Linked DNA regions of Homo sapiens. The protein of the gene in region 1 interacts with the protein of each later gene in a pairwise test. Each region holds a gene or a part of one and is shown on either strand. Other genes may lie near its edges.

Region 1 (7,646 bases):
CCTCGTCATCCGCCTGCCTCAGCCTCCCAAAGTGCTGGGGTTACAGGTGTAAGCCACTGCGCCCGGCTTTCTGTCCAACCTCCCTGTACAGCTTTGATCTTGTTCTGGATCTAGGATAGGTTTTGGGGTTGGGAGCTGCGGGTAGTGAAGGGAGGTGGCTGTTGGGGGTGCCAGGGATTCCAGGGGCAGAACGGGCATCCCTGGCTCCCTCCGCTCCATTTAACCCTCCTCACTGCAGGTGCTGCGAGAGATGTGCAAGCAGGGATACCGGGATGGCCTGCGCTTTCTGCAGCGGAACGGTGCGCGGACCCGGGCGGGAGAGGGCGGGGTGGGCTCGGCTCTGCTACCCCCTGCGGGCCGCGGCCGCGCTGATGAACTGAGAATCCCTTCTCTCCCCAACCCCAGGCCTCCTGAACCGGCCCAACCCCTTGCTGGCGTTGCCCCCCGCCCGCCCCCACGGCCCAGAGGACAAGGACCAGGCAGTGGAGAGCGCCCAAGCGGAGGATTACTCGCAGCTGCCCGGAGAAGATCACATCCTGGAGCACCTGCCCGCCCGGCTCAATGAGGGTGCGCACCTGGGGGACGGGAGGGGAGGAGGGGAGGCAGGAGGGAAAGAGAGAGAGGAGAGGACGGTGAGCAGGGGAGGGAAGCCGAGCGGGTCCTGGGCCCCGCTGCCTCCACTGGCCGCCGACCTCCCGCCCACCCGCAGCCCTGCTGGAGGCCTGCGTGGAGCCCACGGACCTGCTGACCACCCTCTCCAACATGCTGCCTGTGCGTCTGGCCACGGCCATGATGGTGCCCTACACGCTGCCGCTGGAGAGCGCTCTGTCCTTCACCATCCGGTGTGAGGGCTGGGGGGTCGGGAGAGGGGCCCAGGGGACGGACTTTGGGATCATCCGCGAGTGATGGTTACCAGGGAAGGTGGGGTGGGGTGAGCAGTGCCAAGTCAGGGCACAGACAGGGCCCGGCGGGTGGGCATGTGGGTCTGGCCAAGTCCCTGAACGCGCCGCTCGCCCTGTCCCCAGCTTGCTGGAGTGGCTGCCCGACGTTCCCGAGGACATCCGGTGGATGAAGGAGCAGACGGGCAGCATCTGCCAGTACCTGGTGATGCGCGCCAAGAGGAAGCTGGGCAGGCACCTGCCCTCCAGGTGAGCCGCCGACCGCGCGTCCACCCGGGGCCCGCGGTGCTAGCGCCGGGAGCTGAAGCCCTCCCTGCCGCATCCCTGCCCCGCAGGCTGCCGGAGCAGGTGGAGCTGCGCCGCGTCCAGTCGCTGCCGTCCGTGCCGCTGTCCTGCGCCGCCTACAGAGAGGCACTGCCCGGCTGGATGCGCAACAACCTCTCGCTGGGGGACGCGCTGGCCAAGTGGGAGGAGTGCCAGCGCCAGCTGCTGCTCGGCCTCTTCTGCACCAACGTGGCCTTCCCGCCCGAAGCTCTGCGCATGCGCGCACCCGCCGACCCGGCTCCCGCCCCCGCGGACCCAGCATCCCCGCAGCACCAGCTGGCCGGGCCTGCCCCCTTGCTGAGCACCCCTGCTCCCGAGGCCCGGCCCGTGATCGGGGCCCTGGGGCTGTGAGACCCCGACCCTCTCGAGGAACCCTGCCTGAGACGCCTCCATTACCACTGCGCAGTGAGATGAGGGGACTCACAGTTGCCAAGAGGGGTCTTTGCCGTGGGCCCCCTCGCCAGCCACTCACCAGCTGCATGCACTGAGAGGGGAGGTTTCCACACCCCTCCCCTGGGCCGCTGAGGCCCCGCGCACCTGTGCCTTAATCTTCCCTCCCCTGTGCTGCCCGAGCACCTCCCCCGCCCCTTTACTCCTGAGAACTTTGCAGCTGCCCTTCCCTCCCCGTTTTTCATGGCCTGCTGAAATATGTGTGTGAAGAATTATTTATTTTCGCCAAAGCACATGTAATAAATGCTGCAGCCCAGCCTCTGCCCACTTTGTGTGTATGTGACCGCCTGCTTACTTGCAGTGAGAGCCTGGTGGCCAGGGTCTGGCCCTACCTTGGCTGACCAGCCTCTCCACAGCTGCAGGCCAGGTCTCCCAGCGTCGCACTCCTGGGCCTGGCATTTGGAACCTGCCAGGCTGGCCTGGGAACACCCCCCTACAGGCACATATGAACGTACTGCATTCCTGCCGACCCCCCTGTCTAGGATGCATCCACACCCCCCCCAATTTTGCCCAGCAGCCTCCTGGCTGACCCTTGGCCACAGCCTTCTGAGGGCCAATGGAAATATTTGGGACCAAGATTCTTGGTAAATAAAAACGAAAATGTTTGCAAAAGGTGTCGCCTGCCCCTCCCCTCACACGGTGACACAGTGGGGTGTGTGACTGTTTTGGGGCTTGGCCAGCTGTGGGGGCTGAGGTTCCTGAAACCAAGCACAGGGGACCTGGGAAAGCTGGGCCCCTGCTCCACTTGGGCGTTTGGCCCAAAGTTCTCTGTCCCCCCACCCTCACAAGCCTCTCTGGCCTGGTGCACATACCTTCTTGTTCCCCTGCCCAGCCTCCTGCCAGTACACAGGGCAGGGCTGGGATATGGAGGCAGGTGAGGTCCTAGCTGAAGGGGACTCAGCCCTGTGCTGGGGAAGTGGTTTCCTGAGGGCATCCTCTTCATGGCAGGGAGGCCATGAGGGGAGAAGGCCAGCCCTCCTTGGCAACCAAAAAGGCCCCATGGCCTGAGGGTGCTGGAGCCAGCCCCCACCTGCTCCTCCCAGAAGGCGTGGGGTGGCTGTGGTGGCAGCCCCCTGCCAACAATAACGGTTGGTTCTGGGATCTGGGACTGGGCGAGCCGGCCAGGCAGGTCCCTGATGTGCCTGTGCCAGAGGCCACCCCCCTTGGTCTCAAGGTCCTGTCCTATAAGCCCAGCCTTTTGTGGTTCAGCTGGGTCGCACGCTGGATCCCAGGCCCCTTCCTTGAAAAGCAGAGGCCTTGTACCCCCCAGGGTTGCCGGGCGGGACAGTGATTCCAGCCCTTCAGGTGGGTGCAGGGGCCAGGCTGGGGCTGGGGCTGGGGAGGGCTCCTCGGTCTGGGGTGGAATTTTCTCCCCCCACAGGAGGGTTTCACTCGGGCCTCAAGCAGCTCCTCCTTCCAATCCTCCCCCAAGGGGAGCCCCAGTCAGGGCTGGGCCCCAGAAGGAGAGCCAGGAGGGGCTACTGAGGTGGGACCTGCCTGAGTCCCCAGCTCGTTCACCCATACATATACACTGAATACTGCTAAGTTAAACATTTTCTAGCATTACACGTTCATTGTTTTGTTTTGAGATGGAGTTTCGTTCTTGTTGCCCAGTGCAATGGCACAATCTCGGCTCACTGCAAACTCTGCCTCCCGAGTTCAAGTGATTCTCCTGGCTCAGCCTCCCAAAGTGCTGGGATTACAGGCGCCCACCACCACACCTGGCTAATTTTTTGTATTTTTAGTAGAGACGGGGTTTCGCCATGTTGGGCAGGCTGGTCTCGAACTCCTGACCTCAGGTGATCTGCCCCTGTCTCAGCCCCCCAAAGTGCTGGGATTACAGGCGCCCGGCCTACATGTTTATTGTTTAAAAACCGGGAAAGTATAGAGAAGAAAGTAAAGGCTCCCCACCCCTAGAGATAACCGCTGAAAGTATTTGGTCTGTTTCCTGCCCGGCTTTTTCCTACACACACTTTTTGGCGCCTTAAGTCGGGCTCCCCCCGGACAGGAGGGGCCCCTCCCAGGCGCTGGTGTCTGCGCCCGCCCCCCGCAGCCTTGTCCCTGCTCCGGGGGGTCCCTGGGTCTCTGGGGCATATCGTTGCTTCACTGCTCGCTCGAGCCTCCAGGGATCGGGCCGCCGGGGCAGCGCAGAGAGGCGGGGACAGGCGACAGCGGCGCAGAGTGGCTCCTCCCGGGGCCGGCCCAAGCGGGGGTCTCGGTGCCTGCGAAGCGGCAGGGGTCGCTCGGGGCCCAGTGCCCTCTACGTCCCGTCCGGGTCCCAGCTGGGGCGGGGCGCGCCCAGTGTTTCCGGGAGGAGCGGCCCGGGCGCGCGGCAGGTGCGGCGGCGCAACTCGCGGGTAGGCGACCGCTGGTCCCGCCGCTGAGGCCCCTCCACTGCCGCCCGCCCGGCACCCCCTCCGGGCCGCCGTGGCCCGCGCCAAACCTGAGCGTCTCGGTCGGGAACTCCGGTTACCCCCTCGGGGCGCAAGGCGGCAGGGGTAAGGGCGGGGTTGTCCCCCAGAGTTTCGGGGAGCACAGGAGGCTGGCCGCCCCACCCCACCAGCCCATCCTCCCACCTCCCTGGGGCCCTGCTGCCGCGCGGCTTCCGGCTGGGGTGGACCTCAGGTCTAGCCGGCAAGCCGGAGGGCGGGCGAGACAACAACGTGGCCTGGAGGCAATGGCCCTGGCCTCTCGTGTCCCCTTCTCTCACCCGCCCAGACTTGCCCTCTTTGGAGGTCGCCCGGGCTAAGGAACATGGAAGGACGCTGGGTGGAGAGTGAGGGGAGAGGATCCCAGCTCCCCGGTGGGGGAAGGCGGGTGTTGGTGGGGAGCAGCTTTGGGAAATCCGGGATCAGGACATTGTGTGAAGGACAGGTGGCTCTGGTTAGGGGGCGGGGCGTCCCTGCAAGGAGGTGGGAAGGGAGGCCCCAGGGAGTTCTGAAACGGGGAAGGGCCTCAGTGTTGTGGGGCAAGGGTGTTAGGTCTCGAATCTGGAAGTGTTCCTGAGTGGGGCGTCAGAGGCGAAGGGCTCTGCAGGCTGGGACCTTGCCCCTGCACTCTGTGGGCTCAGTTGTGGGGAGGGAGGGGCCGGTGGGCAGGAGGGAGAAGTCTGCCCTGCCTGCCAGCTGTCATGAGGCTGGGCCACACAGGCCCAGGCCAGGGGCTAAGGACTTGGTCAGGACTGGCTGAGCCCTCACTTGGGATCAGATCTCCAGTTGCAGAGTGTGAGGGGCTCCTCCCTCACTGACCCCAAGCCTGCTCCTCTCAGCTTTCAGGACCCCACCTTCCTTATCACCAGGTCTTCTCCACTGGCCCCTGAGATTGCCATCACCTCCAGCTCCTCCTCTCCTGAAGTTGGCAGCCCCTCCTGGGTTCCAGCCTCCTGAGATGCCAGACCCACTGGGGCAGTACCCACAGGCCCTGAGCCTACATCAACCACCCCAGTGACACCCCAAGCCTGCAGCATTTTCCACCCCCAGCCCCCTGGTCCCACCTTGCCTTCCGCCCACCTTCCCACCTGCTGCAGGGAGGGCCCTCGGCTGAGCCTTCAGACACACTTGCACCCCATCCGCTCCCCTCCTGAATTTCTTCTGACCCTCCCTTGGCTTCACAGCACCTGAAGGCCAGGCTGAGGCCCCCTGCTCTCATGGCCAGCCCTGGAAAGCCTGGGGCTGATGAGGCCCAGGAGGAGGAGGGGGAACTCGAGGGGGGCTCTGCAGGGCCGCGGGCTGCAATACTGGAGCAGGCTGAGGAGCTGTTTCTGCTGTGTGACAAGGAGGCTAAGGGCTTCATCACCAAGCACGACCTGCAGGTGAGTCCCCCACCCCAAGAGACTGCTTCGGCCCTGGGTTGACCGCAGCGGCTCATCTCTGCTCTCCTTCCCCGACCAGGGTCTCCAGAGCGACCTGCCCCTCACGCCAGAGCAGCTGGAGGCTGTGTTTGAAAGTCTGGACCGGGCTCACACTGGCTTCCTCACCGCCAGGGAGTTCTGCCTGGGCCTGGGTGAGCCTGTGGCCTGCCTATCCCCCACTGCCCAGAGCTGGAGGCCTGATCAGGAGGCCTGGCACTTGTGGCGCCCTGAGGGCTGCCGGTGCCTCTCGTCCTCCTCCCTCCAGGGCCCGTGCTTTGTCTGCACGCACTCGCGCCTGGGGGCTCCTAGCTGCGGTGGAGTGTGTGGAGCTGACCTTCCTGGCCCCCAGCTCCTCTCCTGTGCTAAGCTCCGGTAGGGCTGGGAGCTGGCCTGTCACCTCTTGTTTCCAGGCCAATAGGACCAGAATAAGGAAGGAAAACAGGAAACTGGGCCCTGAGAGAGGGCAGGATACTCGTTGGGAGGGTGAACGGGGACACAGCCACGGTGGCGACCCACAGCCCTGGTAATCGCTCGCTCCATGCCCGCAGGGATGTTTGTGGGGGTGGCGTCAGCCCAGGGAGCGAACCCCTGCAGGACTCCCGAGGAGACCTTTGAGTCGGGCGGGCTCGACGTGCAGGGCACGGCGGGCTCTCTGGATGAGGAGGAGGAAGAGGAGGAGCGATTCCACACTGTGCTGGAGCAGCTGGGGGTGGCCCCGGTCCTGGGCAAGTGAGTCGGCGCTGGCCCCGCTCCCACTGCCCGCTCTGCTGTTTCTCTGCCTGCATGCTGTCTGCCCTTGTCACCCGAGTGCTGGTTCTGCACAGGGTCTCTAGGCCGGGTCAGGCCCAGCCTAGCGTCAGCTGCGATTCCCTGGGAGGGACCCGGCATGATTTCCCGCAGAATTTGCATTTCATGAGGCAGCAGCCAGGGCTGCAGGGAGGAGGGGCAGCGCCGGGCGCGGGGCCACATACCGGCACTGCCCAGGGTACACACACCTCACCGACCACGCACGCCGGGCAGGGGCGAAAGCGCTCACGGGAGGGATGCCCTGCACGCAGCAAGTGCTCCTGTCCTGCCCAGGGGCGAAGAAGTCTCCTAAGGGTTTGCTGCTGGCGGAGGGAAGCCTGCTTCCCGCTTCTGCCAGCTCCAGCCTCAGTTCCCGCCCGCCCTCCAGGCAGCGGGCTGTGAGGACGCTCTGGGCCAGGCTGCAGCGCGAGCGCCCCGAGCTGCTGGGCTCTTTCGAGGATGTTCTGATACGCGCGTCGGCCTGCCTGGAGGAGGCGGCCCGGGAGCGCGACGGCCTGGAGCAGGCGCTGCGGAGGTGAGGGCCGGGGTGGGGTATGGGGGCCAATGGAGGGCCTCAGGGCAGCAGCAGAGGCGGTGCCAGGGGGCTGTAGCGCTGGCAAGTTCTCATCCGGGGTCGCCCGGTCCCCCGAAGGCGCGAGAGCGAGCACGAGAGGGAGGTGCGCGCTCTGTACGAGGAGACGGAGCAGCTTCGGGAGCAGAGCCGGCGCCCGCCGAGTCAGGTGGGCCTCGGGCCCCGCCCCTCCCGCCAGGCCCAATCCCACCTCGCTGGCCTCCCTGGCTCCGCCTTCTCTGAATTAATCCCTCCCCGACGGCCCCACCTCCGCGGGTCCAGGCTGCCCTCAGCCCGAGGAGATCCCACTGGGCCTCACGTATCACCCCCGTCCGGTCTTCTCCACCCGACCCCGCTCCGCCCGGGCCCACTCCCAGCCCCTGGCCCTCCGTGTACCTCTTTTGCATGGCCGAGCGGCCGGCGGAGGCTCAGTGGTCCTCCGTGCGTCCCAGAACTTCGCCCGCGGGGAGCGGAGAAGCCGTCTGGAGCTGGAGCTGCAGAGCCGCGAGCAGGACCTGGAACGCGCGGGCCTGCGGCAGCGGGAGGTGAGCACCCGGCCCCTGCCCTGTCCCCACGGTCACCCGTGCACTCTCCCCCTGTGCCTTAGCGTCCCCGGGTTGTCGGGAGCCTGGGGCACGCGCAGCACCCCGGGGAAGAGGGGGCGTTCCTCGCCGGTCTCCATCCTTCCACCCTCCAGTTAGAGCAGCAGCTGCACGCCCAGGCTGCGGAGCACCTGGAGGCACAGGCCCAGAACTCCCAGCTGTGG
Region 2 (7,991 bases), on another chromosome or scaffold:
CTTCCACCCTGGACACCCAGGATGACGGGGGACAGGCTGGCATCCAGCCACCGATTGGGGACCACGCTGATCTCTTCACCTGTGGGAAAGAGGCCAGATGCAGGGCCCTGGATGCCTTTCCCTCCTTCTTCCCCTGTCCTGGGCTCTAGGGCACAGGACTGCTGTAAGACGGCCTGCCCCCAGGCTGGGCAGAAGGGAGGCTTCTCAGCAGCTGTCATGACATGGCTTCTCCTGTCCACTGGCTCAGAGTGGACATCAAGGCATGGAAGCACATTGTACCACCTCCACTCCACCCTCTAGTTCAGGGTCAAATCTTCAAGCCTCTACACCCCAAAATAGATTCAACCCCCTCCTTTAATGTCCCTTGGGTCTCAGGCCTTTTTCTGAACCCTGTCTTGATAAGCCCCCCTTTGGAATTGTTTGGACAACTTTCTACACCCTGTGATGTTGCTGAGAGCAAAAGAGGGTCTCATTCCTCTCTGTACATCCCCTCACCACCCACATACATCAGATACATACATACACAGATACATGCATGCACACATATACATATACACACACATGCTCATACCTACATACCTGCACTCACACATACATGGTTACACACAGATACATGCATGCACACATGCTCACACATATATGCCTGCATGCACACATACATACACCAGTAAGCACACACATACACATATGGCCTAGCTGAAGGATCTACCTGGCATCTGTGCTCAGCAAGGGTGCCCCAGGTGGGCAGGTGCAAACTATTTTAGAGAGGGACGTGTTGCAGTGCATGGGGCAGAGTGAGCAAGCAGGAGGTCCAACAATGCCACCTGTTCTCTGGGTCCCTCCACTCTAAGTGACTGAGGATCTTCAGAGAGCAGAGGGGACCCAGGGTGGAGAGGCAGAAACCCACTCCCATATGGGAAAAAAGGTATAGAGAATCTACGTTAGTTCTCTCCTTGGTACTTACTGGCTCCCAGGGAATGCAATGCTTGACCTAAATCTACCTGTAAGGGAATGACAAGACAAGCCTCTTGGAAAACATTCCCACTTCTGCATAGAAGCTTCAGGTGGCCCCAGAGCCTGTGTCTTCACTTTGCTGAGAGGTGTAGTATTTTATTTGCCTTTGCTTAGAGCCTGGTTTGTGCTGCCCCAATGCCTGGGCTCTGTAGGCCTATGCTAATCTGTATGACTATTCTAAGCCCTCTTCAGGCCCCCTCCCCTGAGAGTGTATAGAGACCAAGGAAAGTGGGTCATGTTTCATCACCAACCTTTAATGACCTTCCCTGCATGCAGCCCTCCAGCTAGAAGCTGGTTATTATGCAGATAAAGCACCTTCAATGCCGAGTCCTTCATTCTGAAACATCAGGAAGGGGTGAGGACTACATTAGGAGGAGGGTGGACACTCCAGCATGCCCTGGATCCAGAGAACCCCCTGATCTCAGGCATTTTGTCTCTCTTTCTTCCTACTGTGCCAGAAGTAACAGCACAGCCTTGTCTCCCAGCCCTGCTGGGCTCATGCCCTACAAGGAGGATGACCCCACAGTCTCCCACTGGAGTCTGTGGTTTGCTCCTTCACCCTATTCAACCTTTTCTGCCCCAACCCATCTCCTGCTGGAAGAGAAGCTGCACGGTGAGTCAGAGCCCTAGGTTCTTGCCCCATCTCTGCCTCCAATGCTGCTGAGTCGCAGGAGACAACTCTCTCGCCCACTCTGGGCCTGAGCCTCCCCATTGCTACACTAAGATGATGGGTTGGATAACATCCAGGCCTCTTCCACGTTAAAGCCTGATTCTTCAATTCTTCAAGATACATGTATTTCTATTTGGTCATATATTCCTTACTAAGTGAGGAGTTTCTTTAAATTTAAATTTCTTTTATTTAACTTTTCAAAGTTGTTTCTCATCTTTGAACTCAGTTGATTTCCTGGCATCCTATGAGGTGGAAGATGTATCCTAAAGTGGGTTTCTCCAAAAGTTATATGGGGGAAAAGGATGCAGTGTAAAAATTGGGTCGATGCATGGCTAAATACAATTCAACAAGTTGCCTTACTTCAGAAAACCTCAGAGTCACTCATATGCTGAGCTGGGCTGTGGTTCTCTTATGAGAGGATGTAGAAAGCAGAATTCCCTGCATTTACTTGATCAGAGAGCTCCACTGTGTAAAGCATCTCCTGGATGCCTCTGTGGGACTCCTCTAATCGAGTCCCATAGAACACATCATGGGAAGTGCTTTATTAGACTGAGAGAAAGGACCACTCTCATCCTCTGTTGTAAAGCCCAGAACACGGCAGAGTGTCTGGCTTGGTACATGCCAGTGGGTGGACAGACTGACTGATGGTAATGGTTTTTGTTTTATTATTATCCCCAAAGAGTAGCAGGGAGGCAGGGGCACAGAGTGGGTGAGCTTACATCCATTCACTGTGATGGGGGACAATGGCGGAGCTCTGAGCAGGGATCCTGGCCCCCGTTCCCACCTTGGATAGACTTGGCTGGAGCTCTAGACTGGGAGGTTCACTTATCCCCCTCAGCATCAGGGACCCCTTGTGAGATGGCCTGCCCCAGTCCTGCCCCTATTTGAAAAAGGCTGGGAAAACTCTAAGAGCAGTGAGGTGCTGGTCACAATTTCCCAGCTGCAATGGCAGCCCCTCCCTTCCTCCCTCCTGCTCAGAGCTGGACAACGGGTCTATCCAGAACTCACTTCCTCCGGAGGACACCACCAAACCAGGGCCTCATACACTCACCGGAAGCACAGCGCCCCACTCAGGACCATCTTGAGCTCCACAGGGTGTAGACTCCCCTATTTTGGAATAAACAACAGAAAATCATGGAGAGAGAGGCTGAGTTGGCTGGGGTCTGGGGAGCAAGCAGCTGCACCGAGCTCCCCAGCATGTGAACAGCCTCCACGGAGCAGATTCTGGGTCTGGGGTCAGGAGAGAGCTCCGGTACCACCAGCGCCCCAGAGCATACCTCAGAATGTTCCTTTCTCCTGGCGGGAGCTGTGGAGTCTGCCTGTTCCTCCAAGGATGCCTCAGCCTTTTAAGTAAGGCCTAGGGAGGGGCCCTGAAACTGCCAGGACCTGAGGAGGAGCAGGATTCCCAGCGTGATTTCACATCACCCTAAGTCGCCAGAAGCACTTGCTGCTCATTATCTGTCGTGGGGAGGGAAGCTTCTGGAGACAGTTTCCTTCCAGAAATATTGAAGAACTTCCTTGAGGCTTTCCAGCTCTTTGTGAGCACTAGGCTTTTGCATCTCAGGGGCTTTCAGACCCTAAGAGTCAGTGCCCATGGCAGCTCAAGGGAAGCGCGACTTTCTTTCCTCCCTGCCTCCCTCCCTTTCTTCCTTCTTTCCATCTTTCATTCACTCACTCCCTCCCTTTTCCCTTCCTTTCTTCCCTCCCTCTTTCCTTCCTTTCCTTCTTTCCCTTCCCATTTCCTCCCTTCCTCCCCTATTCCCTTTCTTCCTTACCTTTTTCACTCCTTCCTTCACTCCTTCCCTTCTCCCTCCTTCCTTCCTCTGTCTTTCCTGCCTGCCATTGCCAGGCCTACAGGAGATGTTAGAGGTGGGACTCTCCTGCTTAGGGAATGTTCAGCCTACATGTTCATTGTAGAAAAACCTGAAAATCCAGATCAGCCACAAGAAAAAATGTGAATACTTGTCTTTTCTGAGTGCATCATCAGAAAACCAATGACAACACTATTTCCTCCACACACATACACATGTAACTATAGACAGCTTTCATACAACAGATTCACAAAACCTATACTTTTTCCAACCTCATTTTTTCATGTGGCAAAATAGCAAAATATCTTTCCATACTAAATATGAATAATGACATGCTTCAATAGCTGTATAGTATTTAACTGTATCACTGTAACATTATTTATTGAAACCTATCCACTGTTATTTGTCTTTTATATATTTTTCTCTCTTTTTTTGCTATTGAAAACCATGTTGTGACAAACATCTTTGTATTAACATCTTTGCTCATGTATCTGGTTATTTCTTTAGAAAGTAAAATCTAGCTCATGCCATCTATAATTCTGTAAGTGATCTTTCTTGAATACCTAATTGATAAGATAATACTTAATTGTGAAACAGTTAATGCAGTTTAAATACCTCCATGCACTCTCTGTGATGGATCTGAAATAAAGGTAAGGGTCAGTGCACAAAAAACAATTTAATTATATCTTGAATAACACAGATAACTATTTATTAATAATTTATTGTTAAAGCATACACTTTTTTTTTAAGTTTTATTTTTCTTTTTTCTTTTATTATTATTATTATACTTTAAGTTTTAGGATACATGTGTACAATGTGCAGGTTTGTTACATATGTGTACATGTTAAAGCGTACATTTTAAAGAAATGGTATTCAGACATATGAGCCAAGAGGTCCTACAAGTGTTCAAGAATAAATAAAATATCAAGTTGTTCAAAACACAGAAAATAATCTACGATTTTCATAATGCCACTAATATGATAGACACTTTTCAGAAAAATAAAATTAATGTAGAAACTGCCTTGTACAAAATTATTAAATTACAAATTGACCAAATGGAATGACAGTAGAAATAAGATGAAATGAGACAAGCCTGGCCAACGTGGCAAAACCCCATCTCTACTGAAAACACAAAAATTAGCCGGGTTGGTGGTGCACATTTGTAATCCAAGCTACTCAGGAGGCTGAGGTGTGAGAATTGCTTGAACCTGGGAGGTGGAGGTTGCAGTGAGCCAAGATTGAGCCACTGTACTCCAGCCTGGATGACAGAGAGAGCTAGACTCTGCCTCAATAAATAAATAAATAATAAGTAAAATGAAACTATGACTGTGTATACTGTCAATATTATATGAAAACATTATCAAACAGGCCTCACCAACAATAAGTTCTCTCTGGACCTATCCCTTTGCTTGACTTACTAATTAGGTCTCAGACTCTGTGAAATTAGCCATGAACTAAGAGAACATTGATAAATTACACATTATTCCTGTCTGATAGAAAAGATAACTCCAAAGGGTGCAGTTTTATTGCCTCACAAGTCATAAAGCTGTCTTTAAAACGTAACTTAGCCAACCTATTTCAGCCTTTATTTCTTGACTGACGGTATAAGCCTCCATTCCCTGAATTATCTTTTGATAATCAGCTTTATAATCTTGCTGATTCCCTCACTTATGAAAAATAGTAAATCTTTGACACATGCTCACTATATGTGTGTATGAGAGTCAAGTTTTGAACTTCTGAAAAATAAACTTTGGCACTACCTAAAGACAATGCTGCCAATTCGCAAACCATGTGTGGCTGTTTTAAAATATGTCCATAAATTCTTGGAAACTTCATCTTTAAGAAGGTGATATGGTTTGGCTCTGTTCCCACCCAAATTTCATCTTGAATTGTAGCTTCTATAATTCCCACGTGTCATGGAAGGAACCCAGTGGGAGGTAATTGAATCATGGGGGCAGGTCTTTCTTGTGCTGGTCTCATGATAGTGAATAAGTCTCACAAGATCTGATGGTTTTATACAGGGGAATTTCCCCACACAAGCTCTCCTGCCTGCCACTATGTAAGACATGACTTTGCTCTTCTTTCATCATCTTCCACCATGATTGTGAGGCCTCCCCAGCCATGTGGAACTCTAAGTCAATTCAACCTCTTTCCTTTATAAATTACACAGTCTTGGTTATGTTGTTATTAGCAGCATGAGAACAGACTGATATAGTAAATTGATACTGGGAGTGGGGCGCTATGTTACATGATGAACATGGCAGCATCATAAAAGGCATTGCAATTTCCTCCTAGCTCTTAGATCACTCACCTGGACAAAGCCAGCCACTATGTGATAAGGACACTCAAGCAGCCCTATGGAGAGGCCCACGTGGTGAGAAACTATTTTTTCCTGCCAACAGTCTGTGAATGCACAATCTTAGAAGCAGATCCTCTAGCCCCAGTCAAGCCTTCAGATGACTGCAACCCTGGCTGACATCTTTCCTGTAACCTAATGAGACACCCTGAGCCAAACCCTCCAGCCAAGCCAGTTTTCTCATTCCTGACTCTCAGCCTTTGTTAAATAATAATTTTTTCTTGTTTTAAGCTGCTAACTTTGCTGATACTTTGTTACACAACAATTGGTAACTAACACACCTTGACATCACTATTGGCATTTCAGCACTTTAACACTTTGCCTGTTACCCAGCAATTTGGAACTGGGTAAAAGGCAGAGGTTGGAACAGTTTGGAGGGCTCAGAAGAAGATAGGAGGATGTGGGAAAGTTTGCAACTTCCTGGAGACTCACTGAATAGCTTTGACCAAAATGCTGATAGTGATATGGACAATAAGGTCCAGGCTGAGGTGGTCTCAGATGGAGATGAGGAACTTGTTGGGAACTGAAGCAAAGGTGACTCTTGTTATGCTTTAGCAAAGAGACTGGCAGCATTTTGCCCCTGACCTAGAAATCTGTGGAACTTTGAACTTGAAAGAGATGATTTAGGGCATCTGGCAAAAGAAATTTCTAAGCAGCAAAGTATTCAAGAGGTGATTTGGGTGCTGATAACATTCAGTTTTATGTATTCACAAATATATGGTTTGGAATTGGAACCTACATTTAAAAGGGAAGCAGAGCATAAAAGTTTGGAAAACATGCAGCATGAAGATGAGATAAGAAAAACCTATTTTCTGAAGAGAAATTCGAGCTGGCTGCAGAAATTTGCATAAGGAAAGAGGAGCCAAATGTTTTTCACCAAGAAAATGGGGAAAGTGTCTCCAGGGCATATCAGAGGTCTTCACAGAAGCCCCTCCCATCACAGACCTGGAGGTCCAGGAGGAAAAAATGGTTTCATGGGCCAGACCCAGGGCCTGGCAGCTTTGTGTAGTCTCAGGACTTGGGATGACTTGCATCCCAGCCACTCCAGCTTTGGCTAAAGAGGGCAAAGGTACAGCTTGGGTCATGGCTTTAGAGGGTGTAAATCCCAACCCTTGGCAGCTTCCATGTGGTGTTGAGCCTGTGGGTGCACAAAAGTGAAGAACTGAGGTTTGGGAGCCTCCGCCTAGATTTCATAGGATGTTTGGAAATGTCTAAATGTCCAAGCAGAGGTGTGCTGCATGGGCATAGCCCTCATGGAGAACCTCTGCTAGGGCAGTGCAGAAGGGAAATGTGGGGTGGGAGCCCCCACACAATGTCCCCACTGGGGCATTGTCTAGTGGAACTGTGAGAAGAGGGCCACTGTCCTCCAGATCCCAGAATGGTAGATCCACCAACAGCTTATGCTGTGTGCCTGGAAAAGCCACAGACAGTGTCAGCCCATGAAAGCAGCCAGGAGGAGGGTTGTACCCTGCAAAGTCACAGGAGTGGAGCTTCCAAAGACTATGGGAACCCACCTCTTGCATAAGCATGACCTGGATGTGAGACAGAGACTCAAAGGAGGTAATTTTGAAGCGTTAAGATTTGACTGCCCCGCTGGATTTTGAACTTGCATGGGGCCTGTAGCCCCTTTGTTTTGGCCAATTTCTCCCATTTGGAATAGCTGTACTTACCAAATGCCTGTACTCCTATTGTATTTAGGAAGTAACTAACTTGCTTTTGATTTTACAGCTCATAGGCAGAAGAGACTTGCCTTGTCTCAGATGAGACTTTGGACTGTGGAATTTTGAGTTAATGCTGAAATGCGTTAAGACCCTGGGGGACTGTTGGGAAGGCATGATTGGTTTTGAAATGTGAGGACATGTGATTTGCGAGGAGCCAGGGGTGGAATGATATAGTTTGGCTGTGTCCCCACCCAAAGCTCATCTTGAGTTGTTGCTCCCATAATTCCCATATGTCATGGAAGGGACCCAGTGGGAGGTAACTGAATCATCAGGGCAGGTCTTTCCTGTGCTATTCTCATTCTAGTGAATAAGTCTCATGAGACCTGATGGTTTTATAAAGGGGCATTCCCCTACACAAGCTCTCTTCCCTCCTGCCATGTAAGATGTGACTTTGCTCTTCCTTCATCTTCCATCATGAT

The links. The genes of interacting proteins can lie anywhere in the genome.
Region 2: the proteins of CRACR2B (region 1) and IL36RN interact in binary tests that used the Homo sapiens proteins (3 or more experiments, as listed by UniProt).

The regions. Positions count from the first base shown.
Region 1 is NC_000011.10:823,289-830,934, forward strand, and holds the start of CRACR2B (EF-hand calcium-binding domain-containing protein 4A), read left to right. Parts: upstream 1-4,630; 5' UTR 4,631-5,319; coding exon 5,320-5,484; intron 5,485-5,563; coding exon 5,564-5,675; coding exon of another isoform or gene 5,676-5,895; intron 5,896-6,071; coding exon 6,072-6,252; intron 6,253-6,679; coding exon of another isoform or gene 6,680-6,697; coding exon 6,698-6,844; intron 6,845-6,961; coding exon 6,962-7,049; coding exon of another isoform or gene 7,050-7,332; coding exon 7,333-7,425; intron 7,426-7,577; coding exon 7,578-7,646. Other genes in the region: PNPLA2 (patatin-like phospholipase domain-containing protein 2), read left to right, coding at 239-299, 406-567, 710-842, 1,026-1,148, 1,235-1,574. UniProt on the Homo sapiens protein: Plays a role in store-operated Ca(2+) entry (SOCE).
Region 2 is NC_000002.12:113,054,212-113,062,202, reverse strand, and holds the start of IL36RN (interleukin-36 receptor antagonist protein), read right to left. Parts: upstream 3,006-7,991; 5' UTR 2,962-3,005; intron 2,792-2,961; 5' UTR 2,765-2,791; coding exon 2,736-2,764; intron 1,352-2,735; coding exon 1,266-1,351; intron 80-1,265; coding exon 1-79. UniProt on the Homo sapiens protein: Inhibits the activity of interleukin-36 (IL36A,IL36B and IL36G) by binding to receptor IL1RL2 and preventing its association with the coreceptor IL1RAP for signaling.